Regions from separate parts of the Homo sapiens genome. Here region 1 is linked to region 2. The links come from fine-mapping of genetic effects on gene expression. Tissue or cell type: ileum. Region 2 holds a variant in brackets; the other region holds the start of a gene. All regions are shown on one strand. Distances are between the middles of the regions.

Region 1 (2,625 bases), 69 kb after region 2:
CGCAATTACGTTTCACCAACCTAATAGCATCTTCACCGGGAAAGAGATTGATTTAAAATTGTACATGGAGAGAAAACCAAAATGAGCATTTTAATACCCTCAGCATTGCTTTCTGACCTACAATGACATGCTGCCAATGGTCAGAAAACGGAATAAAAGCAAAATACTGTACAAATGTAATGAGAAAACCCCAAACCACCACAAACTAGGGGAAGATGGTTTTTGCAGCAATCCTGCCCAGCAGTGGTTTATCTCTGGGTGTGGAGATTTAGGAAAAGTGCTCTTTTTCTAATTTTTCTTTTCTTTTCCTTTTTTTTTTTTTTTTTTTTTTTTTGAGATAGGGTCTGGCTGTTTCACCCAGGCTGGAGAGCAATGGTGCGACCATAGTTCACTGCAGCCTCAAATTCTTGGGCTCAAGCGATCCTCCTACCTCAGCCTCCCAAGTAGCTGAAACTACAGGCACATGCCACTATGCCTGGCTATTGATTTTTTTTTTTTTAAGTAGAGGTGGGGTTTCCTCTTTTGCTCAGGCTGGTCTCAAACTCCTGGGCTCAAGCAATCCACCCGCCTCGACCTCCCAAAGTGCTGGGATTACAGACGTGAGCCACCGTGCCCGACCTAATTTTTCTTTCTCCCGCAATGTTATGTATTTATAAGTAAAAATATGAATATTTTTTCTTGGAGAAAAACGTTAAATAAATAAAGAGATGGTGATAACAGCCTTGAATGAGTTTAATTTTGGAAACTGTGACATTGAGGTGACCCAGAGCATGGGGCCTGCCCAAGGCCTCTCCTGCAGATTAGAAAACAGATCCCCCTTCTCCAGGAAAGAGCTGCATTCCTAGGCCTGTAAGTCACGGGTACGTTTCTGCTTTATCAAAACAAACTGGGCAATTATTCAGAGACAGAAAAGGGAACGGGGAGCTCTTTGTTCACCACGCTATTCATGCCTGGTCACGGAGCCCAAATCCAGCACAAATGAACATTCACAGGACTCACCTCTGCTCCTGGGCTCCTTCCTGAATCCCCGATCAAGAAGAGGAAGGTTCTCTCCCAAAGGAAGCAAGCGTGAAGGCAGAGAGCACTTGCACAAGGCTTTGAGCTGGGAATGATTAACTTCGAGTTTGTTTTTCCCAAGTCAGAAGATCAGAGAGAGTTAGGACAGACAGAGCAGACTCCCCCCACATCGCAGCATGGGGGAATCTCAAAGCCACGCCCACGTCTACCAAACCAGTGGTCAGTTTCCTTAGGTTTTTATTTTGTTTTATTTTTTGTAGAGACGGGGTTTTGCCATGTGGCCTAGGCTGGTCTCAAAGTCCTGAGCTCCAGTGATCTGCCCTCCTTGGCCTCCCGAAGTGCTGGGATTACAGATGTGAGTCACCGTATTCTGCCAGTGTCCTTAGGTTTTTAAGTGATTGCCTGTGCTGTTACACAGGGTGCTGGCTATAATATGATCATATCCAACCTGGCATGGTGGCTCATGCCTGTAATCCCAGCGCTTTGGGAGGACGAGGCAGGAAGATTGCTTGAGGCCAGGAGTTTCAGAGCAGCCTGGGCAGCAAAGTGAGATGCTGTCTCTTCAAAAATAAAAAATATTAGGCTGGGCAGTGTGGCTTATGCCCATAATCCTAGCACTTGGGGAGGTTGAGGCAGGAAGATCGCTTGAGCCCAGGACTTCGAGACCAGCCCGGGCATCATAGCAAGACCCTGTCTCTATAAATAATAAAACAATTAGCCAGGCATGGTGGCATGTGTCTCTACTGCCAGCTACTCAGGAGGCTGAGGTGGAAAGATTGTTTGAGCCTGGGAGGTTGAAGCTGCAGTTTCACTCCAGCCTGAGTGACAGAGCAAGACCCTGCCTCAAAAAAAAATGTTTTAAAGAAGTTATTTGTTGAGTGGTAAATGAAGTAAATAAGAAATAATAAAGATAAGATAAAAATAAAAAAGAAAACATTTCTTAAAGTAAATAAACAAACAAACAAAAGAAGTAAAAAGGCCAGGCGCAGTGGCTCATGCCTGTAATTCCAGCACTTTGGGAGGACGAGGTGGGCCGATCACTTGAACCCAAGAGCTCGAGACTAGCCTGGCCAACATGGTGAAACCCTGTCTCTGCTAAAAATAGAAAAATTAGCCAGGCATGGTGTCACATGCCTGTAATCCCAGCTACTCGGGAGGCTGAGGCAAGAAAATTGCTTGAACCCCGGAGTCGGAGGTTACAGTGAGGCAAGATCGCAGCATTGTACTCCAGCCTCAGCAACGGAGAGAGACTCTGTCTCAAAAATTATAGTAATAATAATAATAAACATAAGATAAAAAGAAAAAAAATAAGCAAAAAAAAAAGTAAAAAAAGGATTATTTTCAAGCAATGCTTGGTTTAAAAACATAGAAAAGACGGGCTGGGCACGGTGGCTCACGCCTGTAATCCCAGCGCTTTGGGAGGCTGAGGTGGGCTGATCACCTGAGGTCAGGTGTTTGAGACTAGCCTGGCCAACATGGCAAAACCCCGTCTGTACTAAAAATACAAAAATTAGCTGGATGTGGTGGCGTGCACCTGTAATCCCAGCTACTTGGGAGGCTGAGATAGGAGAATCGCTTGAACCCGGGAGACGGAGCTTGCAGTGAGCC
Region 2 (2,756 bases):
TGTTCAGGTGATGGGTGCACCAAAATCTCACAAATTGTCACTAAAGAACTGACTCATGTAACCAAATACCACCTGTTTCCCAAAAACCTATGGAAACAAAACAATTTAAAAATTTTTTAAAAAGAAATTAAGGATGTTTCTTTCCTCTGGGTATTAAGGCACCTTTCAAATGAGGGTGGTTTGACCTGCTTCAGGAGAGAAAGATGAGAGGAAGGTCAGAGAGACCATCCCGCTTCTGCTGTTTTCTCCAATGCCAAGGGGCCATGTTTTGGGGCGGCACGTCCTGAAACCCCTCACAAGCAACATAAATGAACCTGGATTGCTTAAACAACACCATCCAGGCATGGTGAGTGTGTGGGGTCATTCGAAGAGTAAGGAACGTAGAAGAGCTAGTGTTATAAAATGGCGAAATCAAGAACAGCCTGTGGACAGCATGCAGCGGTGGCTTTATGGGATTACTGTTGTGAGATGCTCAGGGTGAACGTGGGAGAATCCAAGCCTGAGACCCTGGCTCCTCCTTGGCTTGGATCGGGGAGAGCAGAACACCTTGATCTACTATCCCACCTTGTCCCCTGTAGGGAAGTAGAAGAGCCATAGCCACGTGAGGTGATGTCCGTAAAAGAGCGAGATTGCTGTGTGACATACAGAACAAAGCCCACCGCCACATTCTCCCTTCCTGATTCTTCAGCCTGATCAGAATGTGGCTTTGTTCATAGACTAATGGCTAAATTGGCAAAATGCCCCAAGATACGGAGTTGCAGTTGCGAAAGAGCCACGATTGCTGTGAAGATTGTAGAAGCTGTGATCTGCAAAGCACGGAGAGCAAGGCCTGGCTCATGTCAAGGACTCAATAAATGTCACAGCTGTACTCATTATTTTTACCCTGAGGCCACATCCTGGCACAGGGAGAAGGGTGATTATCCATTATACGAGGTCTGGCTGTGGATTGGGATGGCAGTGCATTAGCTGTTTCTTATGTGCATATAGAGAAGTCTGCTCAGGGGCTGTGTCTTTGCAAGCTCATGCCCTCTAAGCAGCTGCTTTAGAACAGGTGAAAATTGGCCAGGCACAGTGGCTCATGCCTGTAATCCCAGCAATTTGAGAGGCCGAGGTGGGCAGATTGCTTAAGTCCAGGAGCTCGAGACTAGCATGGGCAACACGACAAAACCTCCTCTGTATAAAATATACAAAAATTAGATGGGCGTGGTGGTGCACGCCTGTGGTCCCAGCTATTTGGGAGGCTGAGGTGGGAGTATCACTAGAGCTTGGGAGGCAGAGGTTGCAGTGAGCAAGATTGTGCCACTGTACTCCAGCCTGGGTGACAGAGCCAGACCCTGTGTCAAAAAAAAAAAAAAAAAAAAAAAAAAAAAAAAAAAAAAAAAAAAGCCAAGTGTGTGGCTCATGCCTGTAATCCCAGCACTTTGCAGGGCTGAGGTGGGCAAATCACCTGAGGTCAGGAGTTTGAGACCAGCCTGGCCAACATGGTGAAACCCCGTCTCTACCAAAAATACACACAGAATATTGGCCAGGCA[T/C]GGTGGCGCATGCCTGTAATCCCAGCTGCTCGGGAGGCTGAGTGAGGCAGGAGAATTGCTTGAACCCGGGAGGTGGAGGTTGCAGTGAGCTGAGATCACCCCACTCCACTCCAGCCTGGGCAACAGAGCGAGACTCTGTCTCAAAATAAATAAATAAATAGAACAAGTGGAAATAAATGAGACGTCCCCCATCCCAAATGTTTTCGTCCCAAATGAAAATGAGCAGAGGCCACTTATTCAGAGCTAGCCCTAGTAAGGGAGTCAGACATCACCCTTTGCATTTTGGCAGGGACCGAAAGACAAGTAGAGGAGGCTTTATAGTGTCAGACCTCAGGATACACGTCCCCAAACATGACTGCTGGCAACCAGAATATACCAGCCCAACATACCCATTACTTTGAGCTGAAACACTGAGAACCAGCTAATACAAGAGGAGCTCTTTACTTGCTCCTCGACAGCTAAAAATAAAGTACAAATTTCCCCTTTGAAAAGAGAAATTTAGGCCAGACATGGTGGCTCACGCCTGTAATCCCAGCACTTTTGGGGACTGAGGCAGGTTGATCACCTGAGGTCAGGAGTTCGAGACCAGCCTGGCCAACATGGTGAAACCCCGTCTCTACTAAAAATACAAAAATTAGCTGGGTGTGGTGGCTCATGCCTGTAACCCCAGCTACTCAGGAGGCTGAGGCAGGAGAATTGCTTGAACCCACGAGGTGGAAGTTGCAGGGAGCCGAGATCATGCCACTGTACTCCAGCCTGGGCGACAAGAGTGAACAAAACTCCATCTCAAAAAAAAAAAAAAAAAGAAATTTTTGTTTTGTTTTGTTTTGTTTGTTTGAGATGGAGCCTTGCTCTGTCGCCAGGCTGGAGTGCCGTGGTCCGATCTTGGCTCCCTGCAACCTCCCCCTCCCGGGTTCAAGCGATTCTCCTGCCTCAGCCTCCCGAGTAGCACAAGCACGTGCCACCACGCTCAGCTAATTTTTGTATTTTTAGTAGAGACGGGGTTTCACCATGTTGGCCAGGCTGGTCTCTATCTCTTGACCTCGTGATCTGCCTGCCTCAGCCTGCCAAAGTGCTGGGATTACAGGCATGAGTCACCCCACACCCAGCCGAAATTTGGTAAACTCAATCAAGTTTATTTATTTATTTATTTATTTTTTTAATGGGTCGCGCTTTTGGTGTCTTATTTTCCTAACCCAAAACGAAAAAGACTTTCTCCTCTGT

Evidence for each region. PIP is the estimated chance that this variant, and not a neighbour inherited with it, causes the effect.
Region 1: ARSL starts here. The variant in region 2 is fine-mapped to the expression of ARSL in ileum (GTEx, PIP 0.94).

The regions. Positions count from the first base shown.
Region 1 is chrX:2,963,225-2,965,849 of GRCh38, forward strand. ARSL (arylsulfatase L) reads right to left here and starts at 1,117. Exons shown (of 11, transcript NM_000047.3): 1 at 1,000-1,117. RefSeq lists an enhancer at 602-1,425.
Region 2 is chrX:2,894,294-2,897,049 of GRCh38, forward strand. No RefSeq gene overlaps it. Among named protein-coding and RNA genes, the nearest start is that of ARSD-AS1, 9.2 kb to the right of the region's middle. The variant T/C (reference allele first, on the strand shown) is at 1,533.